7 linked regions of the Homo sapiens genome follow. The protein of the gene in region 7 purifies or fractionates together with the protein of the main gene of each other region. This does not show direct contact. Each region holds a gene or a part of one and is shown on either strand. Other genes may lie near its edges.

Region 1 (4,203 bases), on a different chromosome or scaffold from region 7:
TTAACTTTTACCATGTAATTAATTTGCTTGAAGACTATATGTGTCAGCCATTAAATAATTAATGACTTTCCTGAGCACTTTTTAAATTTTGCCTTTCTGCTGTGTTGTTGCTAGTTTCGGGTAAATGAGTTTGGAGCCCTGGAAGTTATTACAGATGAGAATGAGATGGAAAATGTTAAAAAAGCAACTGCTACCACCACTTGGATGGTACCAACTGCTCAAGAAGGTAAGGATGGGTCATCTGCATTTTATTTCTTGCTTTTGAAAGATTTGAAATAAGAATATCTAAAGTTTTATAATAGGCTGGAACTTTGAAGGCCCCGGGTAATTTTTGTGCCTCATGTTGTTAGGTAAATTTCTATAATGAAACTGATAGGAGCCAGCATTTATGTTTTAAAATAACTATAAACTGTCTTCTTTGTCCTAATGCCAGATCTGTAGTAGCACAAGGTTAGTTGGAAATTAAGTAAATCCATGTTGTAGCCTACACAGGTGATTTAGCCAAAAGCCTGCCACTTTTTTTCTCATCTACTCCGATGGTTGTAACTAACACCTATATGCTGATGACTCCTAAATCTACATCTCCAGCCCCGACCTCTCCCCCGAGCTCCAGGCCCGTATTTCCACCTGCCTACTGGACATCTCCACCTGGATGTCCCACAGGTACCTCAAACTCCACATGTCTGAAATGCAATTCATTTTCTATTTCTTTCTCCCCTCCCCACAAACCTGCTCTTTCTTCCCTAACCCATATTTCAGTTGACAATAGCACCATCCACCCAGTGGACAAGCAAGAAACACAGGAGTCATCCTGAATTTGTTCTTCCCATCCCCATATCCTGTTACTTATACCTCTTGATTTTTATTTCCTAATATGTCTCAGATCTGGCCTTTTCTATCTATCATCTTTGCCATGGCCTTAATGTAGGCTCTTCTCAACTCTCATCTGAACTATTGCAGATGTCACTCTACTTCTAATTTTACCCCCTTCCAATTGGTCCTGCACCTTGAAGCCAGAGGAACTTAACGTAGATTGCTTATCTGACACTTCACTGATTTCTCATTGCCTTTTTAGCAGAACATACAAAGATCTGGGTGCCTGCACCTACCTGCTCGCCTTGTCTCCTCAGTCTCTGTTTCCTTCTTTGTATGTTGTGTTCTGGCAGTGCCAGCAGCACAGAATTACGTGTAATTTTCCCAACACATCATGTGGTTTCATGCTTTCTTGCCTTTACTCATACTGCTTTTTCTGGCTCAAATGCCATTTCTCTCTTTGTCCAGTTGGTAAATTCCTCTTTGGCCTTCAAAACCCTGTTGAGGCTTTCTATCAGAAAATCCTTCTCTGACCTTACCCCAGGCTGAATGAATCACTTCTTCTGTACTACTTCTGGACCTTGTTTATGCCTCTAGTATTGCATGTATCACATTTTATTATAAATACTGGTTTTCTTGCCTCTCTTTTCTTCTAGACTGTGAGCTCTCTTGGGCAAGGTCTCTACTGTCATTATTAATGTCTAGAATAAATTGGTGCCTAATAACTGCTGGCTGAATGAATGATTAGCCTAACAATTCAGGCAAAAGGAAATGCGAGTTTCTACACAATTTGGATAGCTATGAGTCAGGAAATGTACTACATTGAAAGCGTAATAGAAGAGATGTTGATTTAGCCAATTAAGTAAAACAAAATCATTCATCAAAAGATTATAAATGTGAAATAAAAGAAGATCCTCTGAAATTTTCTGAAAGATACAAATATAGAAGAAGTTTCTATAGATCGATATATGCGTCTTCTGAATTTAGTGACTAGTGAAATTTTCTTCATTTTACTTTGAACTCTGTAGAAAAAGCCTTGGGCAAGCTTTTATCCTTTCTGCAGAATATTTTTTCATTATTTGAATGACTTGAGTGATTTTTACAGAGCCCATACCCCCCGAAAACACTATCATTTGATCATTCATTCATTCAGCAAACACTATTCTTTATTGTGTTGCTAACAAAATTATTAGAAGAAAAAGTTTGATTGTATTTTAGAATGTCTTCTGTCATGGTTGTAATTTGCATTTCTTCTTTTCATCTTCTAGTCTTTTCAGAGAAGACTGGGATGCCTTTCAGGTTGAAGGATCCAGTGAAAGTAGAAGGGCTTCAGTTCTGTGAGAACTGTTGTCAGTATGGCAACGTAGATGAGTGTCTTTCTGGAGGAAACTATTGCAGCCAGAATTGTGCTCGGCACATCAAAGATAAGTAGGTTTTTGCCCCATTCCATCTATAAATTGAGTTTTAGATTCCAAAGTCATGGTGCCTGAGAATATAGAAGTTTTATGCTCTCGGACATTGATCACCTATTGATACCTTTTTCCCAGAGACTTTTCCTTTAGGGCCACATGGGCCCTAACCCCTATATGGGACCTGGTGACGTCTGTCATGCCTGGTCTGAGTTGTATTACTAATATTCTGCCTGCAAAACAGCCTCTGCCTCTGCCTTCAGTCTTCCATTTCCATTCATTTGATTGTCTTCAGCTAAGAGTATTTAGTTTTTTCTGGGCTATATACACATTTCGATGACACTGACATTTATAGAAACATAGTTTTGTTTATATTTTGGGAATTCTTAGGTAACTCGGTTAAAACTCCACCTACGGCATAAAGCTTCCACTGATTCGTAATCAGCTGAATGGAAATGGCCATAGGGAAGAGTGTAGTGAGTTGGGTCACTGATGATCTCAAGGTGTGGACTGAGGATTATGAGACAGAGGCATCAGCTGTAACTGGTAGTGGTGTGTGACCTTCCCATTTGGGGACAGTCTGACAAAGTTCAGCTTATCACCAAGAAGGTGTTTTTCTTGCATATCATTGTATACTACAAAGAAATGACTGGACATTTATATTTTAGTGGCATTTCCCATGTATTTTAATCAGCACAGGCTTGGGAAATGTTTTCTTTTTCTTTTTTTTTTTTTGAGATGAAGTCTTGTTCTGTCGCCAGGCTGGAGTGCAGTGGCGTGATCTTGGCTCACTGCAACCTCCACATTCCCAGGTTCAAGCAATTCACCTGCCTCAGCCTCCCGAGTAGCTGGGACTACAGGCGCACGCCACCACACCCAGCTAGTTTTTTCTATTTTAGTAGAGACGGGGTTTCACCATGTTAGCCAGGATGGTCTCAATATCCTGACCTCATGATCCGCCTGCCTCAGCCTCCCGAAATGCTGGGATTAAAGGTGTGAGCCACTGCGCCCAACTGGAACTGTCTTGTTTTTCTTGGATAACTGATGTTTCACAATGTTACACTTAGCCTTTTTTCAATTGGATTTGTCATTCTTAATAACTGCTAGATCCTTCTTTGACCCTGAAAACAAATATCTCTAAATAATCAATTCTTTTATTAGTATAGATGGTAGATGTGACAGACAAATAACTTGTTAGAACCTATTTCATACATATTGCTGGCCCCCTTTTGAAATTAATATATAAGGTAATTTTCATTTTCTGCCCTGACAGACAGATGTCATATGTAATAGTTGTTTTCAGTGTTCCTGATATATGATATTCTCATGCCTACAGATTTCTCCTGGTAGTTAAAGATTTTTCCTTTGCAGGGTGATTTTTTTTTAATGATTGTTGCATTGATAATCAACAAGTAGATGTTTGATAGGTATTGTCTCTTGTCACTATTTTGGGTTTATAAACACAACAGAGATCAGAAGGAAGAAAGGGACGTAGAAGAAGACAATGAGGAAGAAGATCCTAAGTGTAGTCGGAAGAAAAAACCAAAATTATCTCTGAAAGCTGACACCAAGGAGGATGGAGAAGAGAGAGATGATGAAATGGTGAGTGCCTCTGCCTGACACCAGGAGCACAGGGATGCATCTTTAGTGGGTAGCATCACAGTCACAAGCACTGCTCTGGAGCCCACTGAGTTCAAATGTGGGTTCCAGGACTATCTGTGTTAGTGTCAGTAAGTTACATGGCCTCTGTGTGCCTTGCTGTCCTGATCTCAAAATGGGAATCATAAACAATAGTATCCTTCTCTCAGGGTGAAAAAGTGGGATGTCCTGAAATTTAGTGCTAGGGTGAAAGGGAACATTTAAAAACCTTCAGTCTTGTAGATGAATCTTAAATTCCTCTTGACAACACAATGCCAATCTCATTTCTTTAAATTGCAGACAGATCTCATAAAACTATCTGAGTGGGCTGGGCGTGGTGGCT
Region 2 (3,500 bases), on a different chromosome or scaffold from region 7:
CCCCCGGCCCCCCACCATGTGTGTGAGCCTTACCTTGGACTGCACGCTGAGGGAGCGGATGGAAGGGACAGCAAGGAGGCCGAAGCGCTCGTAGAGGTACTCATTGGAGGAGCTTCCCTTCAGGAGGGCGAAAGGAATGAGGTAGAGCTCCCCCTCCAGAACCAGGATGAGCTGCCGGTGCCGGCCCACGGGGCCGCTGGAGTGCATCAGGCCCTATGGAGCAAGCACGGAGAGGCTGACATGGGTGGCCCAGCAGGCAGGGGTTTCAGGCACCAGGACAACCCTGAGCCCTAGCCTGGATGACACAAGCACGAGCAGGTGAGGCCTGTGGGGGTGTGGGGCGCCATGGGGCATGGGCCGAGTTGCAGCCCTGCAGGAGCGGCACCAACTGGCATGCTCGCTTGTGGACTGGCAAGGGCTGGCCTGGCAGCATCCATCTGCCTCACAGTCCTGAGAAGGTTAGAGGACAGTTTCTTGAAGTTCACAAGAACCTGAAGTGGGTTGGAGACCGGTCTGTACCGCACAGGCACCCTGAGAAGGGGTGGGAATGGCCCCTCTCAAAACAAGATCTGTTTTCCATTTCAATGGACAAGAGGCTAGAAAATCACAGTGAGGACGGGAGGTCTGGGGGCTGGCATGACAGCCCCTGTAGAAGGGGATGGGCTGGGTTCTAGGATCTTCCGTGACCTCCTCTGAGAAAGAGTGGCCCCTTGGCTCTGGGCTTGGGAGGTGCCGTCCCCACTTGTTCCCTCTGGGGATGTCAGGGGACCCAATGCATGGATGACTCCCATCCCTCTTGAAAGGCCGAGCATGAGGACTCGAGGCAGGGTGTGCACAGGGCCACAGCGGACACAGCCTCATTCCTGTTCATTGCAGAACAAGGCTAAGGGCGCGGGCATCTTAATGAGAGCAGCAGGCAACAATCCTGGAAGCTGGGTCCACACAGACTGCGGTGAACAAAGAGGTGGCGTGGAAGCTGCTGCTGCAGCCCAGAGCCTGCCAAGAAGGTCCCAGGTCCACAGGGCCTGCGCAACACTGGGTGCCAGGGGTGGGGCTGGCCTGCCCCCCAACCCCATCTGCTGAGGAGTGGCTGACAAGCGGACACCCACCAGGGTGCCACTCGCTTGTGCCTGGGGAAGCAAATGTGCTCGCTTGACCCGTCTGATGTGCTGCCGTGGGCACTTGACTGAGAGTGGCAGAGCACTAGGCTAACCCAAAGTGACACATGCCTGGCGGGATGTTCAGTCTCTGTAAACCCATATGGTTTTTTTTTTTCTTTCCTTTAAAAAAAATTTCTAGCTCCATCTAGCGAAAGCAGAAATAAAAAGTATTAGGCCAATTTGTTTTTCATTTGTTTGCTGTAAGAGCTACAGCATGGGCCAGGCACCAGTGGCTCACACCTGTAATCCCAGCACTTTGGGAGCCCAAGGCGGGAGGATTATCTGAGGTCAGGAGTGCAACATGGTGAAACTGCATCTCTACTAAAAATCCAAAATAACCGGGTGTGGTGGCATGCACCTGTAGTCCCAACTACTCAGGAGGCTGAGGCAGGAGAATCGCTTGAACCCAGGAGGTGAAGATTGTAGTGGGCCAAGATTATACCAGTGTACTCCAGCCTGGGGGACAGAGCGAGACTGTGTCTCAAAAACAACAACAAAAAAAGAGCTACAGTATTTCCCAAGAGGAGGTAAATTAATCACTGTTCAATTGTGCAACCTAGGCAGGAAGAAGTAGGGGTGTGTCACAGTGACCCCGACACTGTCTATGGATGAGCTCTGGGTTAGCACAGGGAGGAGAAAGAGTTGTAGGGCACCTGGGCCCCATGGCCTGCCATGGGCCACACCTGAGCTCCCTGGCCGGCTCCATAGGTAAAGGTGGCTCAGGGGGCTGCTCTGGAGGGCAGTGCCACCACACCGTGGAGGTGTGCCAGTGAACCTCGAACCAGCCGCAGTGGCACAGCTGATGCTGCCCTGACCCTGCTGACAGGGTCAGCAGCTGTGACAGTGATGACCACCTGCTGCTCAGTGGGAACTGTGCTGCCTGAGAATGGGTAGTGTGGGGCTTGAGCCACCTGCCATGTGCAAAACTGGACCCACTTCCACTGTTCCAGAGTCGCAGGGCTTTGCTGTGACAAGATGCCAGCCCCAGCCCCAGCCCCAGGCCTGCAGGTCCTCCCTGGGCTCCTGCTGCCTAAGCCCAAACCACAGTAAGTTTCTGTCAGATATCATCCCACAGGCTACTGCCTTCACCAGGACACACGCCACTCATAGACAAGTCCCTGGTCATGACAGCACCTAACTGTGTGAACCGGAGGGAAGCTTGGCAAGCTGAAAAATGGAGAAGTGAGGCTGGAATCCACGCAGAGCAAACATTCACTGGCAGCCCATCTTCGTAGAACTCTGCTAACTCTGCCCACGAAACCTCATCTGCGGCACAAGCCTAATGATCAGAGAATGCATGTCCTTGAAGGCAGCTTGTCTGTCTGCTCCAACACTCCACCAGGGGTGGGGGGCATCTCCTGTGGCCCTATTGTCAGAAGTCTCCCAAGCTGGGCCTCGACTTTCCCATCAGCCACTGAGTGGTGTCCGTCATGTGCCTACTGGGGACCGTAGGGAAGTCAGATAAATTTAGGATATGGTCCTTGCTTGCAGACTTATGATGATGTACTTAGAAAACTAAAATGCACACAAGAGGCCATTGCTGAGTGAAACTCAGTATTGTCAAATGTAACACCTTCATGGCAGCATGGCAGCCCCAGAACGGGGAAAGCCTACCCAGGCTGACGCTGGGCCCACCCAGGAGGGTCCGTGAGGGTTGGGGAAGGCCTGGGCAGATGCTGTTGCCAGGTGAGCACAAGGCTAAAGAGGGACATGGGAGCCAGACTGTGGGGGCGCTGAAGATCAGGCAAGAAAGTGTGGTTCTTGTTGGCTGTCAGGACCCGCCATGCCTTCTCAAGCTGAGCCCTGCAAAGCATTGAGAGGCAGCCTGCCTGCCTGCGGGAGAGGGGGCTGTACCCAAGAGTAATTCAGACCAGGGCATGCCCACCAAGAGAAGAGACAAGGAGACTTGCTGGGACTCAGTGAGAGTGACCTTAGCAGGTGAGGAGAAGTCTGAAGTCCAGGCTGGGAGATAGGGAGGCTGTTCTCTGAACCTCATATCCCAATTTGGAGGTCTGGGTCCTCCCTGCATCATGCCTAGGAGCTGGTACCAAGCTTGGCTCATGCATACAACCCTGGGTGAAGGTCCCCAAATGGGACCCCTGTCCAAACTCTGTGAAATGAGGCAGGTGACAGTCGCAGCTGTTCTCTGAAATGTGTGGGCTTGTGGGGAGACGGGTAGAACAGCAGGCTGACAGCTGCCGTTCAAAGGGGGAAACTGATTGGACATGTTAGAGATAATGCCCAGGAAACTTGTCAGCTCTGACTCTGGTGTATGTGTGCTGTCCTTGCACTGAAAGATTAGTTATAATCCAACGTGAACTTGAAAAGGGGAAAGCAAGC
Region 3 (4,203 bases), on a different chromosome or scaffold from region 7:
GGTGCTGGCCCAGGCCCTGACTCCCTGAAGAGAGGTGAGTAGAGCCGTAAGGCTTCAGAGAGAGAGAGACATGGGGGGTGATGGGGCTTGCTGTCAGCCAGCTGGGGGTCTGGAACCCTGCCTCGCATGGATTTCAGTTCAGGGGATGACAGTTTCCTGAAGGACCAGTTGCCCACCACTCTGTCCAAGGCTGGGGAGTGGTGACAAGGTCAGGAACATCAAAGTTGGGTGAGGGCTTGTGGTGGCCAGGTGGCTCTGGGGAGCAGGTGGGGGGTTTCAGGCCAAGAGACATTCATTCTCAGGATGGTTAAGGTGTTTGGGAAAGCAAGGTTTCCTCATGATATCAGTAAAGGATACAAGAATATGTCAAGATATGAAATGACCCCTGCATTTAGAGGGTTGAGTGAATATGTTTGCCCATTTTGTATGTGCGTGTGCATGGGTGTGGGAAGATCTCCCGATAGCCTGACCTCCTGGTGGCTGAGAAAGCTGGAGAAAATAATAAATTAGTAATAATAATAGTAATAATAATAATGATAATAGCAGCAGCTCACATGTATATAGTGTTTACTTTGTCAGGAACTATTCTAAGCATGTCATAAAATATTATCTCATTAAATCCTCATAGCAACCTTATGAGGTGGGTGCCATTATTATTCCCATTTGACAGATGAGCACACCGAGGCACAGAAAGGGGAAGTCACTTGATTAAAGTCACACAGTGGGGAGGTGAGGTCTGAACCCAGGCAGTAGGGCGGATTCTGTCCTGCAGTGCTGCACCACTCTCCATAAATGTTAGCTATTTCCATTGCTATTATTATTCCCTCCATTTGAGTCCTACCCCAGCTGTCGGAGGCGAGGCTCTGGACTTCTGTTTCATAGACTGGGATTCTGAGCCCTGAAGACCCCACAGCCAAGCAGGGGCAGACTCAGGCTCCTAATTCTGGAGTCCCCCTTTCTAGGCCAGGGTTTCCAGTACATTGTAGAGTAGTGATCTAGAGGGAGTGAAGGACAGATTTGGGGTGAACTCAGAGATGGTAGGACACCCCGATCCGGCCTCTTTTTCCGCCTTCAGCCCGGTCATTGTCTCTCTTACTCTCTGTCTCTTTCCTCCTCTGTCTTTTTCTCTCTAATACTGTCTCTATTTTTCTCTCCATCTCTGTGTCTTTTTTCTGTGTCTCTCTCTTTTCTGTGTCTCATTCTTCACTCTCAGTTTTCTGTCTGTTCACCTTCCTTTCAGACTCATCTTTTTGTCTCTCTGTTTCTCTCCCAATCTGTCTCTCTCTCTTTGCCAGTCCACTTCTCCCTCCCCCTGGTCTCTCCTTGTCTCTCTTCACCTCTGTCTCTGACTTTCCTGGTCTCTGTCCCAGGCCCCCTCCCCACTGGCAGGAAGATCAAAGCCACCTAAGGCCGTAGCCCCAAACACAGATTCCTGGGAGGTAGGCCAGCAGGGGCTAGGGTACAGGGCAGGGTGGGGTGAAAACAGTTTTAGGGACGCCCCCTTCCCATCCTTTCCTCTTCACCCCCCGCCCACCCTGTGTTGTGATGGGAACTGACATGTCGTGGGCTGCAGCCGCCGCAGGGGGAATCCCTGCCGGAAGGTTTTGCCTGGAGCAGAGACATAGCGTGAGTGTGTGAGTGTGTGAGTGTGTGTGTGTGTGTTGTGTGTACCCAAAGATGTGAGCATGAAAGTCTGCCTTGCTTGGGAGCTCAACTGAGCCCAGGATGAAACCAGACCTCAGAGAAGGCCTTCCTGAGGCTGAACTGGAAGACTCTGATGTGTTTTCCTCAGTCCCTCCCACTTTGACACTCTCCCTGCCAATGCCAGAGGCGGGAGGGGGGAAACCCTTAACATTTATTGAGTACTTACTGTATGCCAGGCATGGTCGGTGGTACATGAATGAAGATGGTACAATTATCATCCCAATTTACAGATTAAGAAATTACAGCCTAGCTAGGGGAAATCATTGGCTTGGGGGTCACAGAGCTAGCAAAAGGGGAATCAGGATTTGAACCTGAGTCTGTTTGATTTCAAAGTACTTACTCTCAATAATAGGGCACTGTTCTATGCCTGGTACATATTAAGCACTTGATGATCATGATGATGATTGCTAACATGTAATAAGCACATTTTATATGCCTGGCACTATTCTAAGTATGCTATGTTCATCAATACATTTAATCCTCACAGAAGTAAGGCCTGTTTCTATCTCCCTTTTACAGATGAAGAAACCGAGAATCAGAGAGGTTCAGATACTTGCTGGAGGTCACACAGCTAGTAAGTATCAGAGCTGGGATTTGGAGCTAGGGAGTATGGCTTGGATAGCCAGGGCCTTAAACCATAGTTAACAGTGATTTTTTAGACAATTTAGTGGGTACTGGAGGGCCCAGGTTGGGCCAGGTGTCACCCCTCTGGTTGGGAGATCATGAGAGGTTTGGGAGCTACTACAGGAGGGGCAGAGGTGAGGGTGGGACACGCAAGTAGGGACAGGGGTATTCTATCAACCAGTATAGAGATATTTTTATTTTTATTTATGTTTTAAGATGGAGTCTTGCTCTGTCGCCCAGACTGGATTGCAATGGTGTGATCTCGGCTCACTGCAACCTCCACCTCCCTGGTTCAAGCGATTCTCGTGCTTCAGCCTCCCAAGTAGCTGGGATTACAGGCGCCCACCACCATGCCCAGCTAATTTTTGTATTTTTAGTAGAGACGGGGTTTCACCATGTTGGCCAGGCTGGTCTTGAACTCCTGACCTCAGGTGATCCGCCTGCCTCGGCCTCCCAAAGTGCTGGGATTACAGGCGTGAGCCACTGTGCCCAGCATGGAAGTGTTGTAATCTGTTGTTAATAGCTGATAGTGGCTTCCTCTCACCATCCTATGGAACCCAGCTGTAGGCGGTAGGGGAGGGATCCAGGCCTGACTCGTAGCAGGACATCCCATGGCGGCCAAGTCCCACGCCTGGGTAACCGGCTCCTTCCCCGGCAGGTCTCACCTCCCACCCCTCCTGCCTTCCCACTGCACCATGGCTCCAGGACCCTTCTCCTCGGCCCTCCTCTCGCCGCCGCCCGCTGCCCTGCCCTTTCTGCTGCTGCTCTGGGCGGGGGCATCTCGTGGCCAGCCCTGCCCCGGCCGCTGCATCTGCCAGAACGTGGCGCCCACACTGACAATGCTGTGCGCCAAGACCGGCTTGCTCTTTGTGCCGCCCGCCATCGACCGGCGCGTGGTGGAGCTGCGGCTCACCGACAACTTCATCGCCGCCGTGCGCCGCCGAGACTTCGCCAACATGACCAGCCTGGTGCACCTCACTCTCTCCCGGAACACCATCGGCCAGGTGGCAGCTGGCGCCTTCGCCGACCTGCGTGCCCTCCGGGCCCTGCACCTGGACAGCAACCGCCTGGCGGAGGTGCGCGGCGACCAGCTCCGCGGCCTGGGCAACCTCCGCCACCTGATCCTTGGAAACAACCAGATCCGCCGGGTGGAGTCGGCGGCCTTTGACGCCTTCCTGTCCACCGTGGAGGACCTGGATCTGTCCTACAACAACCTGGAGGCCCTGCCGTGGGAGGCGGTGGGCCAGATGGTGAACCTAAACACCCTCACGCTGGACCACAACCTCATCGACCACATCGCGGAGGGGACCTTCGTGCAGCTTCACAAGCTGGTCCGTCTGGACATGACCTCCAACCGCCTGCATAAACTCCCGCCCGACGGGCTCTTCCTGAGGTCGCAGGGCACCGGGCCCAAGCCGCCCACCCCGCTGACCGTCAGCTTCGGCGGCAACCCCCTGCACTGCAACTGCGAGCTGCTCTGGCTGCGGCGGCTGACCCGCGAGGACGACTTAGAGACCTGCGCCACGCCCGAACACCTCACCGACCGCTACTTCTGGTCCATCCCCGAGGAGGAGTTCCTGTGTGAGCCCCCGCTGATCACACGGCAGGCGGGGGGCCGGGCCCTGGTGGTGGAAGGCCAGGCGGTGAGCCTGCGCTGCCGAGCGGTGGGTGACCCCGAGCCGGTGGTGCACTGGGTGGCACCTGATGGGCGGCTGCTGGGGAACTCCAGCCGGACCCGGGTCCGGGGGGACGGGACGCTGGATGTGACCATCACCACCTTGAGGGACAGTGGCACCTTCACTTGTATCGCCTCCAATGCTGCTGGGGAAGCGACGGCGCCCGTGGAGGTGTGCGTGGTACCTCTGCCTCTGATGG
Region 4 (4,203 bases), on a different chromosome or scaffold from region 7:
ATTATTAAGTCAGAATTGCAGTTGCTGGGGTCTGAAAGAGCCAGACAATAAAAATAAAATCCATAATGAGCTGTTATAAGTAGGATGTTTATCTTATTTACTAAAGAGTTTTTGAGAATTCTATTCTGATGGTATGTGACCAATGGCATGCATATACAAGACCTCAAGTCCAAGTTTGGGATAACTGTAGCCAACACCTAAAGGAAAGGTAATTATGTTTTAGTTTACATGGGGCTCATACCCATGTCACTTGTCCCATCAGCACTATGCCCTCTGCAAGTAAGACTATGACGACAATGGTCGGCAGAACAAAAGGTTGACAATTGTGAAACCACAAGGTTACAGAAGAAATTGAGGCCTTGAAAGGCTCCAAGACTTGCCTTGGGTCACAGAGCACACTGTCGGTTTGAGATTCTCAGTGTTGCACATGGTCATAAATGTTTGAATGTACAACCCCCCATTTTTTAGTCAATTATGTACAAGTAAAATAAGTTTTAATGTAACAAATTATTTAAATAATGTGTGCCCTGTGAGGATTTATCCCACTTAATGGCAACTGAACTCTACCACATTACATTAACATATAACATAGCAAATATTTGAGTGTTTACTATGTGTCAGGCACTCTTCTAATCATCAGATACGTGTTAACTCATTTAAGACAGCCACCCTGGGAGCAGATGTGATCATCATCCTCGCAGAGAGGAATGCACAGAGAGGTCACAGAAAGCAGCGTACCAGGAGTCAGACCTAGGCAGTCTGGTGTCTAAGGCTATACTCTAAATTATTGAGTTAAATGATCTAATAAAATGTATATTAAGCATATACAATAAAACTTGGAAGTAAACGTGTTGACTGCTAAGCTACACAAACGTTATTTAGTACTATTATCTGTATTTCCTTTCATTTCCTTATCACTAACCAGTATTTTTTTAAACCACCACAAAATCAAGTTCTCTGTTAGAATTTGCCTTCATTTTTAAATATTCAGTAAGCATTATGGCCCAATTATGTAATATGTCTAAAGAAATTTTGCTGGCAGGGTGCGGTGGCTCACGCCTGTAATCCCAGCACTTAAAGAGGCAGAGGAGGGCAGATCACTTGAGCTCAGGGGTTCAAGACCGGCCTGGGCAACATGGCAAAACCCTATCTCTACAAAAAATACAAAAATTAGCCAGGTGTGGTGGCACATGCCTGTAGTCCCAGCTATTCAGGAGGCTGAGGTGGGAGGATCACTTGAGCCCAGGAGGTTGAGGCTGCAGTGAGCCCTGATCATGCCACGGCAATCCAGCATGGGCAGCAGAGTGAGACCGTTTTGGTTTTTTTTTAAATTGCGCACTCTTTTTTCACTGGGTCCATTTCATCTAGCAATGAAATCTACATTAAGGGGAAAAATCACTATTCCTGTACGATAACCCGCTTAAGTTCAACAAGAAAACTTTATTATTTAAGAATTTCTTTATAAAACTGAACTATATGTTCATGCATTATAATTCCAGGAAACTAAAGAACATAAAATTACCTTTAAAAGCTAATGTGGAGAATTTCAGGGGAAAATCAGTATTAACTTATAGTTTTATTATTGATATAAAAGAAAACTTCAAATACTGTACAGTAAGGTGTGCTGTAGAACACTATAATACACTATTACCAATTATTCATTACTCAAATGTAATATATACAGTAATCACGAAATCGGAAAATAATGGGCAACAGCCAGTGCCTTAAGGGTGAAATAACATCTATACTATTTTATTGAGCAGTTAAAGCACTTGCTATTTTTCTAAATATTTACACTATTACTGCTTATGTTTACAAATTCTAAGTATCATTTCCCTCCAAAAAGTAGACTTTCCAGTTCTTGGCACTAATTCTTAGTCAAATAAGCCTGAAAATACTGGCAACCTTTTCAGTCTTGCATTGCTCTACCACAGGCATAATAAGGGCTCAGGACGAGATTTCTGCATTCTAAAGAAAAGTAGGCAATACCTTAAAAATTTAAAAACTAAGTAATTGATACTCACAAGCAGGTAACATCAACTAAAACTTTTTTCTTTACTAATTTTTCCTTTTCTTTTACAAGAGAATAATCATTAATATTATACTACAAAAGCATGTAGTCTCCATAATTAAAAAATTAAATGTCAGATATACAAGTAATGGCATTTTCTCCAATAATTCATAATTTTTACAATTTCTGCTATTTTGGAACAAACATTAAAATTCCCACGATTTAAGTATCATTAAATATGAACTGAAACACTTAGCATCTCAAAGAATTATCAAGAATGGTAGAACTTGTAATTAACTCTATAACTTACATGGGTGATATAGTTCCCCTTTGTTGTTTTATTTCTTAAATATACATTCTACTAAGGAATATTTTCATGTGAACAGCTCTGGTTTGAAAAATTAATTTATACTGTGAAGAGCCTTAAGGTTGTACAATTTTGTTAAATTATATGATAACCTTGAATGGTAGGATGCATTTACTCAACTTAGAATATGGCGCTATTATTATTATAAATGGTGGTTTTTAATTCACATTAAGATAGGTGGAATTTAATCCAATTTTGCAAAGGCTTTGTGTTTATAAAAATCTTAAGATGGAAACCTTGCTTTGAGAACCATAAAACTCAAAATCTGTGTAGTATTTTAAGTATGAACCAATTGAAATTACTGTTGAAAAATGAAGACAAAACTGTATTGATATTCTGAAATAAACACTTTATGCTGCCACTATATTGACCAGTTGAAGTGTAATTAATGACAGAAGTAAATTTTTTACCTAAAGGTTAGTTATTAGTGAGGTCTACATATTTAGAGAGTTATTCAGTAGCAGATAGTATTGGTAGGTAACTACATAAAACAATACTTTTATACATTTTGCATTTAGTAGCTAACATGTGATGTCAGTACAATTCTCAAAAACCTGTCATTAGTAGTATGAGTTGCTAGCAAGTGATCTTCCCTGAGGTAAGAGACCATATGCAAAAGTCAGTGTTCATCTCCAATGAAGATACTTAAAAATAATGGCAATAAGGACCTGTGGCCAGGAATTACAGATGCATTTCAGATTGATATCTTAATTGCAAGCAGTAGGCTTGACTGTAAAAACCAAACTAAAAATCACTGGAAGACACAGAGCCAGTATCAGTCAATAGCATTTGCTAACTTTCTCAGGCCTCTACCCTAACATTTTCCAATAAAAATATCTGAAACAGAGTGAAGCGGGAGAAATGGGTTTGCTCTTTAACTAGTTCCTGAGTAACCATTCTCATGGAGTTAATTATATTCTATCTTAATATATGGCAGCATCTTGTTTTCTTCAATTTACAACAATTTCTCATTACCAGTATTCTAGATACATACTATCTTCAACACTACCTGGACTTTAGGTCATCAACTTAAATTTGGTATGATTAACTATAAAATGGATTACTGAAGAAAAAATTTACAACTTTATTTCAATGTTTAGTGAAGCACTGCAAACAGAATTGCAGGAATGCATTTTAGTTATAATGTTACCTCTAGGGCTAAAAAAAAAAAAAAAAACAAATTTACCTGAGATGTCTAGCTTGCACGCCAAGATGTGGCTATATCACAAATGGCAGTACTAGAAAAATAACCATGCTATAGTCATGTATTTGGTTATGAAAACCATATGGAAAGACAAAGGATGATATTTAAAAACTTAAAAGAAACCCTATTCTAAAACTTCTTTGTGAGGATACCTGGCCTACTTCTCAAAAACCATCAATTCACCCCAACCAAATTTTCAGCTGATTTGAAAGAATTTCAAGAAATTTGATCACTTATCAGAATTGAGCCTTTTATTCATTTATCAAGGGAGAACCCAAACTATTACTGTACTATTCATACCTAACTGGCTTTTAAATAGCATTGCTGTAGCTAGAGAAATTAATAAAGTTGTCAGAGATTAAGTCCATCTTCTAACATTCACATACGCATTCCAATTTGCACTAAATGTAAGAATAGGGAGATAAAGTTTGTTTCTGGTATTTTATGTTAATGCTATGAGATATCTGTCAGTTATCAATGAAGAAAATATTTGTTAAAGAAGATTATATCATTTTACATGAAAGCAGTGCATTTTTTGCTTAAACAGTTTTCCTGTATTTAAATCCCCCCAAAAAAAGTTCCAGTGGCTGAAAAAGCCAAAAATAATTATAGTGGTTAGTG
Region 5 (4,203 bases), on a different chromosome or scaffold from region 7:
CCTTCTTTCTCTCCCTCACGTTTCCCGTATTCACCCTCATCATCCTTTTGCCTTTTCCTGCTGGCTCCGCTCCACAAGAGTAAGATGTTTGCCTGCCTCTTCAACTTTGTGTCCCCAGCACCTAGACCAGTGCCTGGCACACAGGTACTGAGCAAATGTTTGTTGAATTGGAATGAATGAATGAATTCTAGTGGTAACTCCATGAGGCAGGGACTATGATGCCCATTTTGCAAATGAAGACGCTGAGGCTTGGAGAGGCTGAATGGCTTGCACTGGGTCACACAGCTGGGAGTGCCACTGATTGCTAGTCTTGCAGAGGGGACTCCGAGAGCCCCTTGGCCTTCCAGACTCACCTCACTGTCTCTCCCTGCTCTCTCTGCAGGGCCAGCAGTCCTCAGGCGAGGACATGGAGATCTCGGATGACGAGATGCCCTCGGCCCCCATCACCAGCGCTGACTGCCCCAAGCCCATGGTGGTGACCCCAGGAGCGGCAGCCGTGGCAGCCCCTTCTGTGCTAGCCCCAACCCTGCCGCTGCCCCCGCCACCTGGCTTCCCCCCGCTGCCCCCCCCACCACCACCACCCCCACCGCAGCCTGGCTTCCCCATGCCCCCACCGCTGCCCCCACCGCCGCCCCCACCCCCTCCAGCCCACCCTGCTGTGACAGTGCCCCCACCACCCTTGCCAGCGCCGCCTGGAGTCCCGCCCCCACCCATCCTGCCACCACTGCCCCCCTTTCCGCCGGGCCTGTTCCCTGTGATGCAGGTGGACATGAGCCACGTGCTGGGTGGCCAGTGGGGCGGCATGCCCATGTCCTTCCAGATGCAAACGCAGGTGCTCAGCCGGCTGATGACGGGCCAGGGCGCCTGCCCCTACCCGCCCTTCATGGCCGCTGCGGCCGCCGCTGCCTCAGCTGGGCTCCAGTTTGTCAACCTGCCGCCCTACCGGGGCCCCTTCTCCCTGAGCAACTCCGGCCCAGGCCGCGGGCAGCACTGGCCACCACTGCCCAAGTTTGACCCGTCAGTGCCTCCACCAGGCTACATGCCACGCCAGGAGGACCCACACAAAGCCACGGTGGATGGCGTCCTGCTGGTGGTCCTCAAAGAACTCAAGGCCATCATGAAGCGTGACCTGAACCGCAAGATGGTGGAAGTGGTGGCTTTCCGGGCCTTTGACGAGTGGTGGGACAAGAAGGAGCGGATGGCCAAGGTGGGTGGGTGGGTGCAGGGCTCTGCAGGGTGGCTGTGGAGGGGGGCAGGTCCCCAGCCGGGCACCTCCTCTTTCCCTGAGACTGTTAACTGGAAACGCTGCCGTGGACCCCACTATGGGAGCTCCATTTCATGTGGCCACTTTCAAAGTTCCGCAAACTGTGCTCCACTTCAGCAGCCACTAGATGCACACGGCTCTTTGAATTTAAATGAGTGGCCAGGCATGGTGGCGTACACCTTTAATCCCAGCACTTTGGGAGGCTGAGGTGGGAGGATTGCTTGAGCCTAGGAGTTCAAGATCAGCCTGAGCAGTATAGCAAGAGCCCATCTCTAAAAATAAATGTGCAAATTAACTTAAATGAATTAAAACAGAGTAAAATTAAAACTCCTCCTTTGTACATGCCACATTTCAAGTGCTCGGGAGCCACAGGTGCCTAGTGGTAGTACACAGGATAGCTGGTGCAGACTGCCCCCCCCGCCCATTGCAGACAGCTCACAGCTGCGACTCCCTTTGAACTTGACTCCCCTCACCTCCCCTCATGCCGCCTTTTACACGGAGCCCTGTCTTGGACCACTTTTTTCCTTTTTTTGTTTTTTTGAGACAGGGTCTCGCTGTATCGTCCAGGCTGGAGTGTAGTGGCGCAATCATAGCTCACTGCACCCTCAACCTCCCTGTGCTCAAGGGATCCTCTCACCTCAGCCTCCAAGTAGCTGGGACTACAGGCATGTACCACCACACCCAGCTAATTTGTGTGTTTTTCTGTAAAGACAGAGTTTCACCACGTTGCCCAGGCTGGTCTTGAACTCCTAGGCTCAAGTGATCCTCTGCCTTTTGGGCTGGGATTATATGCGTCAGCCACCGCTCCTGGCCTACTTACTATTTTCTTTTCTTTCTTTTTTTTTTTTTTTTTTTTCGGAGATGGAGTCTCACTCTGTCACCCTGGCTGGAGTGCAATGGCGTGATCTCAGCCCTCTGCAGCCTCCACCTCCTGGGTTCAAGCGATTCTCCTGCCTCAGTGTCCTAAGTAGCTGGGACTATAGGCACCCACTACCATGCCTGGCTGATTTTTGTATTTTTAGTAGAGATGGGGTTTCACCTTGTTGGCCAGGCTGGTCTCGAACTCCTGACCTCAAGTGATCCACCTGCTTCAGCCTACCAAAGTGCTGGGATTACAGATGTGAGCCACTATGCCTGGTCTCTTTTTTCCTTTTTAACATATTATTTGCCTGTTTGCAATCTTACAGGTAATCTAAAATTACTTATTTTCTCCATAAGAGAGAACTTTTTCTTGAATACTTTAAACTCCCCTTAATCCCTCCCCTCCACCCCATTCCCCCCTGCTCCCCTCCCTCGACCGTGGTTATGAGTTTGAGTGTCCCCTGGAGCCTGCTTTGGGAAATGCTTGCTTTCTGCCACAGAGGTAAGCAGCACTTGTCAGAGCCTGTTTGTCATCCGTTTAACTGGGCAGTAAAATTAGAATGAACCGTCTGAAATCACTGATACACAGCTCTTTATGGTTCAGCCAAATTATACTGACCCTACAGTAACAGCTAATAGCTATTCCATTCACAATTTGAATAAAAAGAGCCACCAGGCCTCATGTGCCCTGCACCTTGCAAAGCTCTTCATGTGGCTCGTTTTGTTAATTCTCACAGCATCCCTTTGAAGGCAGAGCATTTCAGAACCACAGGGGCAACCCCTTAGTGAGCAGTGAAATAAAGCCAGTAGGTCCTGTTTTTAATGCATGGGAAGAGAAGAGAAAATGGGATAGTGTAAATCTTACCTTGTGAAGGTGGTGTTGCACAGATGTGTCCCTATGGTGTAGTTTTTGGATTGTCTGCAAAGTGCAAAGGCCACTGTTGTAAGGAAGGCAGGTACAGTAGTCCTATTCTACAGGGGAGGACATTGAGATCTATGAGGCAGAGCGGTGCTCTAGAGCCTCGTGGGTAACGGCATAGTGTGGCCAGGTGTGTAGGGAATGAGGATGCAGTTACCTGTGGTGGCTGTTACTGCCGAGTGGAAGGCAGGTAGCCTGGGGAGGGCTCCCTGCAAGGGTTGGTGGTGCCAGAAGCGGTGACGGTCCCCTCCTGTCTCCACCCCAGGCCTCGCTGACCCCGGTGAAGTCGGGCGAGCACAAGGACGAGGACAGGCCGAAGCCCAAGGACCGCATCGCCTCGTGCCTGCTGGAGTCATGGGGCAAGGGCGAGGGCCTGGGCTACGAGGGCCTGGGCCTGGGCATTGGGCTGCGTGGGGCCATTCGCCTGCCCTCCTTCAAGGTCAAGAGGAAGGAGCCACCAGACACCACCTCATCTGGCGACCAGAAGCGGCTGCGGCCCTCGACCTCTGTGGATGAGGAAGATGAAGGTTCGTGCTCTGGGTGCTGGGGTCCCCTTCTTCCGCATCCCCCCAGCCCAGCTCTGACTCCCTCCCTTCCTGCAGAGTCCGAGCGAGAGCGAGACCGGGATATGGCAGACACCCCCTGTGAGCTCGCCAAGCGGGACCCCAAGGGCGTGGGTGTGCGGCGGCGGCCGGCGCGGCCTCTGGAGCTGGACAGTGGTGGGGAGGAGGACGAGAAGGAGTCATTGTCGGCGTCCTCGTCCTCATCCGCGTCATCATCCTCGGGGTCCTCAACCACCTCACCCTCGTCCTCGGCCTCCGACAAGGAGGAGGAACAGGAGAGCACCGAGGAGGAAGAGGAGGCGGAGGAGGAGGAGGAGGAGGAAGTCCCCAGGAGCCAGCTCTCCTCCTCCTCAACCTCATCCACATCAGATAAGGTGCCTAGCAGGCCAGGAAGCCTCAGGGGGCCGGGCCAGGCGACGAGGGCCAGACCCTTCGGCTCACCTGTCCCCACTCTTCCTTCTCCCCCAGGATGACGACGATGACGACAGTGATGACCGGGACGAGTCTGAGAACGATGACGAGGACACAGCCCTGTCAGAGGCGAGTGAGAAGGACGAAGGGGACTCGGATGAAGGTGAGCAGGGAGGCCGTGGCTG
Region 6 (4,203 bases), on a different chromosome or scaffold from region 7:
AGGCCTGGACTCCTCTAAGGCTCTTAGAACAGAAAAAGAAGTCAAAAGACTTGCAAATGAAAATTATTACATACTGTTGCCTGAAGGGAGCTCAGGACTCAGTGCGAGTTCAGTGCGTCACAGATCTCCTAAGTGAGACAGATCTGAGATTTAAACACTTGAGCAGATGATAAAGCAGCAAACTGCTTAATGGTTGATGTGGAATCTTATGATTAGGCTTTTGTCAAGACAAAGCACAGGGTTGGAAGATCCTCCTCTGGCAGTTTACTTTGCAAGGAAATGTGAAACTAAAATCTTAGATCATGGGGTGAGGCAAAGTGGTCAGCCGCACAGGGCATTTGAGCATCTGATGTGGTTCAAGTTTGGTAAACTAGTTTAGAGATGCTGTGCTATTTGTGGTGAGAATGCAGTGTGACTGGGAATGATTTATGAAGAAGGTATTATAGTTTAGAAGTATGTTTATGCTTTCATATCTTTATATATTTTAAACTTGATTTAATTGGCCTTGTGTTGGAAGACCAGTTATTTTCTATTGTTCTCAGGTTCTAATTTTGCTATTAAAGTACTTTCATTTTGAAAAAAATCACTCAATCTGGAGCTGCTTTTGTTCAATTCCTTCTCATACCCTCCCTATCCCCCCTCCCCCAACTTGTAACAGCAATTTTGAAGCAAATGTACGTGGGTGGTTTCCATGGTACAAGACAACAACTTTCACAGAGAGAGGGCACTTCAGCTTGAGCTAATTGGGCATGACATGTTCCAGTGTTCTGGTGTGTAAACACAGATACCCTAATATTGCAGGTATTTCAGCAGTTGATCAGGCATGTTAGAGAAGGAAAACATTTAGTCTCATTATTCTGAATGACAAATGCAGTGGAGGAGAAAGGATGGGCAACAATGATGCCAGGAGATTGGTTCATTTGAATCATGCTATACCCAACTCCCATAACTGTTCTGTGTTTCTGTTGACAGGACCAGGAAGAACAAGCTTACTTTGCAGTGTTTGATGGCCATGGGGGAGTAGATGCTGCTATTTATGCCTCCATTCACCTCCACGTTAACTTAGTCCGCCAGGAGATGTTCCCCCATGATCCTGCTGAGGCCCTGTGCAGGGCCTTCCGGGTCACTGATGAGCGGTTTGTGCAGAAAGCAGCCAGGGAGGTATGCCCCTTTCTCATAAGTTCCAGCTAGAAATGTACTAGCTGAGCTCAATTTGGTCTGTGTGGTTAAAGGGCTATTTAGATTTTCTCTTTCTGGGCAGACATTATCCAAACTGTATTCTTGACTCACAGTATTGGATTCTGTTGTAGTTCCAATTCCCTCCTCAGGAAGAGTTTCAGGGGGTACAATGAGGTACTGTATAGAAAATCTCAAGCTGTAATTTTCTGGATTCATTTCTGTAATAACTGCTGGATTTGGCAGGTGAGTTTCATCTTTCTTTTATTCACCATTGCCTGTCAGGTTCACACCAGGACCATCTCTCTAAGCAGACTCTTGCTGACAAGATCTGGATATGGTGAATAAAACAATGGTCTAAAAAAGAAACAGAAACTGGGATTACTTCCATACATTTGGTTCTAAATGGGTAGGCAGTGTTTTGCTGTGTATCTCTTGAGGGAAAATTCGCTTGGAGAGGGTGAATCCTTAAATGATCCTTGAGCTGATTTTTCTCTTAATAGGGAGAAAAGAAGAGCTCATGTCCTACATTGCGAAGGTTAATCAGACCTAAGTTTTTTTTACTTTGAATAAATGGCAAGGGCTCTATATTAAGGTCTAAAAGTAAAAAAATTAATCTAATTATCGTTCTGGGTATTGGTACATAATTAACTACAGTGTTCTATATTGGATTTTTAACTGGGGACGAATAAAAGAATTTTTAATTTTTAAAAATAATTACAGAAGTAGATACAGACAAAAAATAAGACTCCTGCCCTGTGACTTAAACATTAACTCTTTTTAAAATGGGCTTGGAGAGATCAGGGTAATCATTTAATCCATTTTTTGATAGCATAGTTATGCTACAAGCAATAATGGGGCTTAGAATTAATGAAACAATAACTCAGACCTATTTGGTATTAAGAAAGAGAATTATTCTTCATCTCTCCCCTCCCCTAAGTTTGGATTAATATGCAAATCCAACAGTAACCAGTAGAGTCCACACAAAGAGGTGGGTCTGGAGAATAAAGCCACTCTTGACCTCAGAGCTCCAGTCTCTTGAGGACCTGCATTCTGCTTGGCTCTGCCTCTCTTGAAGCTGTGGGCTTTTATCATCTGAGTCGAGGACAAGGGCCGGCCCCTGAGAGGTGACCCGTAATCATCAATGTGAAACAAAGAGATTCACTCTGTCTTCTTCATCCTCTATTCTATTCTTTTTTTCCTCTGTCTTCTCAAAATTATGTGTTGTTGTTGTTGTTGTTGTTTTCTGACCATGTTTACCTCATTTGTTTTGTCAGTGACCCTGGTGTCTCTCAGTTCTGCCAATAGTTCTGAATAATTTAGGTTTGTCTCAGCGCCCCTTTTCTCCTTCTTATGCTTCCATGTGCTGCTAACTGCTGGGAAGAAAACAGCTATTCCTGTTATGAAGCAGCCCTGCCTCCTGTTCTCTCCAGGGCATATGCACTGAAGTGTGTTTATCATGTGTTCTAGGGGGCTGAGTTTTTGAACATTCTGTGTGGGAAGACATTTTATTGGTGGGTGAGGATTTATAACAAACTTTCCCTATATAGGGAAAACGAGAAGTTGTTTTTCTCATTGGATACAAGAGACCTTTTACCACCCCTGACGCATTGGTTCTAATTTAGGCCAGGTCCTTAGTAACAGAAAGTCATGCTCATTTGGTGGTGACTCATGTCAAATGGGGATGTCATTTTCGTATAGTAGGACCAAGAGCTTTAAGTACAGTCGTAGCTACTGCAGTGAAATTCCAGGCTGTTAGTTCTTTATGCAATGTTCCAAAAGCAAAGACCCCTAAAAATACTGTAGGAAGGATATTTTTTTAAAGGTATAAGCATCTTAGTACTCCAGGGAACGTAAGCTGTCTCTTGGCCCCTTAGCTTAATTTCCAGAGATTAGAGCATCTGTTGTGTACCAATCAGATGTTTTATATATCATTTTATACAGCTAGGACTCTCCCACTGAACAAATACGATGTCAGTAATGAAATGGAGAGCAGAATATAGAAATTTTTACTCTGAGGATTGGTATAGAGGATTTAGTGCTTGACTGGGAGGAAAAAGAATTTCAATTCTGTCTTATATACTAATAGTTACCTGCCCTTGGGCAAGTCACATAACCTGCCATAGTTTTCTTATCTATATTTAAAGTGGAATTAATAATCATCCTCGCCCTGCATATCACAGATCAGGTGGACTTATGTGTGTATATACACATAAATACATACATGCATATACAAATGCATTGAGACAATGAATTATTATATATGTGTGAAATTCCATTATTAATAGTATAGCTCCCAGCTGAAAAGCTTAATTATAAATTGCTTCTCAATAAGAATGTAGTATCTATTTCTTTTCACTGAGTCTAGTTTTATTTAAACTGTTTTCAGAGCTTAAGATGTGGGACCACAGGAGTGGTGACTTTCATCAGAGGCAACATGCTACATGTGGCCTGGGTGGGTGATTCCCAGGTTATGCTTGTGAGAAAGGGCCAAGCTGTTGAACTAATGAAGCCACACAAACCAGACAGAGAGGTAAGTATGGTCTGTTTTAATAGAGCCCATGCTCTAGTTATTAGTTTAGATTTTCTAGTTATTGATTAGGATTCACTTACTTTTTTTTTTTTTGAGATGGAGTTTCACTCTGTTGCCCAGGCTGGAGTGCAATGGTGTGATCTTGGCTCACTGCAACCTCCGCCTCCTGGGTTCAAGCGATTCTCCTGCCTCAGCCTCCCGAGTAGCTGGGATTACAGGCATGTGCCACCACGCCCAGCTAATTTTTGTATTTTTAGTAGAGACGGGGTTTCACCATGTTGGCCAGGCTGGTCTTGAACTCCTGACTTCAGGTGATCTGCCTGCTTCGGCCTCCCAAAGTACTGGGATTATAGGCGTGAGCCACCGCGCCCGGCCAGGATTCACTTAATTATTACAATTATTGCTATCACATCAGCAACTGTGCCCACCCTCCAATGGAGAAACAAAGAGAACCTTTTCATGAGCTGATGAGTATTATATCTGTTGTTTACTGT
Region 7 (3,679 bases):
CCCTGTCTTCCACCCCGCGAGGAGCACCACAGCTCTTCATGGTCTGACCCAAAGCGCCTCCACGGGGCGTCGGGGTTCACCTGACGTTTTTGGAGGTGCCTGTTTTTTGGGACACATTTCCCCGCCAGCACCCTGGGCATGTGTGGCAGTGGAGCTGCCTTCAGGGCCCTGCAGGCCTTCCCTTTGGGTGGGGTTGGCTACCCCGCTCTGGCACCTGCCCCGCTGACTTCCCAGCGTGGTGGCCCCGCGAGGGGACCCCGGCTCCAGGGAGGTCGCAGAGGTGCGGGGTTGATGGCCTGGCCTGGCATGTGGTCCCCATCACAAGAGTCCTGTGGTGGCCCCTCCAGTGCCATCACCGGGTGGAGGTGGGCAGCTTGGAGGCCAGTTATACCCATCCCCGAGTCTGGGGGCGTGGAGGGGGCAGTGACCTGGGGCACAGGCTGGGGTGAGGGGTGTGACCAGAGTCAGGGAAAAACTGGAGACCTGAGGAGCCCCCCACTTCACTGCTGGCCCCACCGTGGACAGTGGGAGTTTGAGGGAAGACAGAGCCTGAGGAACTTAGAGATGTTTCCAACGCAACCCAGTGCAGAATCATAGCGTTTTACTATTTCCCCCCAAATGTGACAGTTGTCCTCACCTTGTAACCTTCACAGAAGCGACTCCTTGGACCTGATTCTGTCTGTGTACACCACAGTTTAACAGCAGGAGCTAGATCACCAGCCTCTGCAGCTTAGGCAAGGGTGCAGGAAGGGGTTGCACAGCCGTCCTCCTGGCGGGCCGGGGAGTCGACACCACACGGGACCTTTAGTGCAGCTGTGTGTCCCCTGAGCTCCCGCATCCTCTGGGCCACCCAGGGTGAGCCGTCCACACCTCCTGGAATCTGAGTGGTCTCAGGAGCAAGCTTGTGTTTGGCATTGGCAGGATCTGTCTCACTAGCGTAACTTTGATCCCAGTGTATCCCATAGAGTCCCTTTAGATCACAGGGCTGGGGGTGTATATGTTCCCTGAGTTAGCCTGAAAAGCCAAGCTTTGTGTCCCCAGGCCCTCAGGGTGGACTGCCGGCTGTGTGGGTGCTGTTGGGGGCGAGAGCCAGTGCGAGCCTGAGTCAGCGCCCCGAGGGCCATGTGGAGACTGCCCTAGCTCAGCCTCCAGGTCACACGCACCCCTGTCTTGCAGCACCACACACTGGAAGCAGACGCTGTTCATGATGGACGACCCAGTCCCTGTCCATACAGGAGACGTGGTCACGGGTTCAGTTGTGTTGCAGAGAAACCCAGTGTGGAGAAGGCACATGTCTGTGGCTCTGAGCTGGGCTGTCACTTCCAGACAAGACCCCACATCTCAAAAAGTAAGATACGTAGTTGTAAGATTCTGTCCTGTGGGTGCCGGTCCTCAGGGAGACAGGCCTGGGTGGTGGTAGTGATGGCAGATGCTGGCCCACACTGGGGTCCACGCCTTTTGTGCAGGAGTGATTTAATCCTTACACAGAAAGCGCCTGTTGTCATTGGCTTCATTTCCCATCTGACAGCACGGGAAGTGGAGGGCTCTGGAAGGGAAGTCAGGGAAGTCATTCCCTCAGGTGACACGGTAAGTGAGGGAGAGCAGAGACCCACATCAGCCTGAGGCCCCTTGTGCCATGTCCAGAGGGTCCCCCAGATGGACAGAAGCCTGAGCTGTGCCTTGGCGCTCCCTTTACACAGGCCTCTGTGGCTTCCCAGGCAGCAGTTAGTCTAGGCGTGTCGTCTGTGATGCGTGTTCTGACTGGCAGCCTTCGGATCCGTGTGTGAATTCATGTGTAGCTCGCCCAGCTCACTTGGGCTTCCTGTCTCAGAGGCTGCTGAAAATGGAATGTTCTTCTTTGGGCTCAGGATTAATGTGGCAAAGAAAATAAAAATAAATGGTTTTCCTTCATTTTTTATATTTGTTTTGTGCTTTGCTTTGTGATAAGTTTTTGTTAAAAGTTTGTCATTTAAAAAAATTCTGCACCTGAATACTGTTCTCTTGTCCAATATTAAACCATTAGGAAATGTAGTATGTTAATCAAATGATTTATCATCTGATTGACCTGTTGTCATTTATCTTTTTCAGGTTGGAGAAAAAGTCTTCCCCATCTGGAGATGACAGTTGATGCTTTATTTGGAAAGCAGTGTGCATATCTTGAGGGGTGATGAACACAAGCAAACCAAGTTGCACCTGGCTTCTGCACACTCCTGCGAAAGTCGGTGAACATTCACTCCACATTGACCCCTCCCTAGCCTGGCAGGTGACGTCAGGGTCCTTCACAGACAAACACGCTTGGGCTCGGCAGGAGCTGCCGTGGCCACCCCCGCTGCCCAGTGTCTGCCCTCTAGAAGTAGGCTGTGTTTCCAGGTGTTCACCCGTGGTGCCCACAGTGCCGACCCGTGGCTGGGTCGGAGCTCCATGTTCCTAAGCTAGGTCTAGGTCTACACTCCTAGGACGCACGCATATCAGCCCGTGTACCCTGTGACAGTGACTGTCCCCACCTCCTATGTTAGTGGTGCCCTTACTGCCGTCGCTCATCCACTCGTGTGGGACGTAGGATTGCACAGGGCTGTGCCAGTGGCGTGTAGGGAACACTGCCCTGGCTCAGCGTGCGAGCTAAGGTGGTGATGTATGCGATGGGACTCTGCATGGGATAGTACAGTTGTGTAGACGTCTTCCAAATAAATTATGTGTTGGTCCATCGCACATGCTCAATAAATATTTTTAAATGAGTGAATGTCATTGTGTATCCTGTTTTATGCATATATGTTATTTTTTGTAATTACAGGATCATACTATATGCATTGCTTTATAAGTTTTTCTCAATATTGTGAAAAAACTTCCACATCAGTAGATACATGTCCATAATTTTTTTTTGTATTGTTTTGATTTTTATTAAATTTTATTGAAATATAGGCTGGGTGCAGTGGCTTACCTCTGTAATCCCAACACTTTGAGAGGCTGAGGTGGGATGATTCCTTGAGCTCAGGAGTTCAAGACCACCCTGGGCAACACAGCGAGATACTATCTCTACAAAAAAAATAGAAAAATTAGCTGGGCATGGTGGCGTGTGCCTGTAGTCCCAGCTACTCGGGAGGCTGAGGCGGGGGGATCACTTGAGCCCAGGAGGTTGAGGCTGCAGTGATCTAGGATTGCACTGCTGCACTCCAGCGTGGGTGACAGAGCAAGACCCTGTCTCAAAAACCCCAAAAAACAAAACTGAAATATCAAATATATATTGAAAACAGTGCTAGTCATGGGTACATAGATGATGGCATTTTATAAAGTGGACGCACATGTAACCAGCATCCAGGCCAGGACACACTACAGATTCCCCGATTCCCCTTCCACTCAGTGCCCACCCTCTCAAGGGTGATGTCCTGACTTGTAACTGTCGATTACTCTTGCCTGAATGGAGTTGTACACGTGTTCTTTTGTGTCTGCCTTCTTTAATTAAACATTGTTTGTGAGACTCATCTATGAATTTTAGACAGTGTGGTTGTGGTTGACTTTTTCATTGTGGCATAGTATTCAACTGCATGAATAGACCACAGTTTATGATCTTGTTTCACATGGTGTCCTTTTGGGTTGTTGCCATGGTTTAGCTATGATGATTACTGAGACTGTGGACATTTCTGTGTATGTGTTTTGGTGCATGTATGTACACATTTCTGTT

The links.
Region 1: the proteins of PRMT2 (region 7) and L3MBTL3 purify together in Homo sapiens (affinity purification with mass spectrometry; 3 studies listed by BioGRID and IntAct, with this or other methods). This does not show direct contact.
Region 2: the proteins of PRMT2 (region 7) and TTC28 purify together in Homo sapiens (affinity purification with mass spectrometry; 3 studies listed by BioGRID and IntAct, with this or other methods). This does not show direct contact.
Region 3: the proteins of PRMT2 (region 7) and LRFN1 purify together in Homo sapiens (affinity purification with mass spectrometry; 3 studies listed by BioGRID and IntAct, with this or other methods). This does not show direct contact.
Region 4: the proteins of PRMT2 (region 7) and VCPIP1 purify together in Homo sapiens (affinity purification with mass spectrometry; 3 studies listed by BioGRID and IntAct, with this or other methods). This does not show direct contact.
Region 5: the proteins of PRMT2 (region 7) and SETD1B purify together in Homo sapiens (affinity purification with mass spectrometry; 3 studies listed by BioGRID and IntAct, with this or other methods). This does not show direct contact.
Region 6: the proteins of PRMT2 (region 7) and PPM1E purify together in Homo sapiens (affinity purification with mass spectrometry; 3 studies listed by BioGRID and IntAct, with this or other methods). This does not show direct contact.

Annotation. Positions count from the first base shown.
Region 1 is NC_000006.12:130,049,168-130,053,370, forward strand, and holds part of L3MBTL3 (lethal(3)malignant brain tumor-like protein 3), read left to right. Parts: intron 1-114; coding exon 115-226; intron 227-483; coding exon of another isoform or gene 484-588; coding exon 589-663; intron 664-2,081; coding exon 2,082-2,241; intron 2,242-3,691; coding exon 3,692-3,824; intron 3,825-4,203. UniProt on the Homo sapiens protein: Is a negative regulator of Notch target genes expression, required for RBPJ-mediated transcriptional repression. It recruits KDM1A to Notch-responsive elements and promotes KDM1A-mediated H3K4me demethylation.
Region 2 is NC_000022.11:28,001,341-28,004,840, forward strand, and holds part of TTC28 (tetratricopeptide repeat protein 28), read right to left. Parts: intron 1,340-3,500; exon of another isoform or gene 214-1,339; coding exon 34-213; exon of another isoform or gene 1-33. UniProt on the Homo sapiens protein: During mitosis, may be involved in the condensation of spindle midzone microtubules, leading to the formation of midbody.
Region 3 is NC_000019.10:39,314,157-39,318,359, reverse strand, and holds part of LRFN1 (leucine-rich repeat and fibronectin type III domain-containing protein 1 precursor), read left to right. Parts: intron 1-1; 5' UTR 2-34; intron 35-2,223; 5' UTR 2,224-2,278; intron 2,279-2,986; 5' UTR 2,987-3,023; coding exon 3,024-4,203. UniProt on the Homo sapiens protein: Promotes neurite outgrowth in hippocampal neurons. Involved in the regulation and maintenance of excitatory synapses. Induces the clustering of excitatory postsynaptic proteins, including DLG4, DLGAP1, GRIA1 and GRIN1.
Region 4 is NC_000008.11:66,628,529-66,632,731, forward strand, and holds part of VCPIP1 (deubiquitinating protein VCPIP1), read right to left. Parts: 3' UTR 1-4,203. UniProt on the Homo sapiens protein: Deubiquitinating enzyme involved in DNA repair and reassembly of the Golgi apparatus and the endoplasmic reticulum following mitosis. Necessary for VCP-mediated reassembly of Golgi stacks after mitosis.
Region 5 is NC_000012.12:121,813,724-121,817,926, forward strand, and holds part of SETD1B (histone-lysine N-methyltransferase SETD1B), read left to right. Parts: intron 1-382; coding exon 383-1,207; intron 1,208-3,309; coding exon 3,310-3,571; intron 3,572-3,646; coding exon 3,647-3,981; intron 3,982-4,075; coding exon 4,076-4,181; intron 4,182-4,203. UniProt on the Homo sapiens protein: Histone methyltransferase that catalyzes methyl group transfer from S-adenosyl-L-methionine to the epsilon-amino group of 'Lys-4' of histone H3 (H3K4) via a non-processive mechanism.
Region 6 is NC_000017.11:58,968,567-58,972,769, forward strand, and holds part of PPM1E (protein phosphatase 1E), read left to right. Parts: exon of another isoform or gene 1-972; coding exon 973-1,161; exon of another isoform or gene 1,162-1,463; coding exon of another isoform or gene 1,464-1,533; intron 1,534-3,565; coding exon 3,566-3,709; intron 3,710-4,203. UniProt on the Homo sapiens protein: Protein phosphatase that inactivates multifunctional CaM kinases such as CAMK4 and CAMK2. Dephosphorylates and inactivates PAK. May play a role in the inhibition of actin fiber stress breakdown and in morphological changes driven by TNK2/CDC42.
Region 7 is NC_000021.9:46,662,207-46,665,885, forward strand, and holds the end of PRMT2 (protein arginine N-methyltransferase 2), read left to right. Parts: intron 1-1,176; coding exon 1,177-1,348; intron 1,349-2,088; coding exon 2,089-2,121; coding exon of another isoform or gene 2,122-2,168; 3' UTR 2,169-2,918; downstream 2,919-3,679. UniProt on the Homo sapiens protein: Arginine methyltransferase that methylates the guanidino nitrogens of arginyl residues in proteins such as STAT3, FBL, histone H4. Acts as a coactivator (with NCOA2) of the androgen receptor (AR)-mediated transactivation.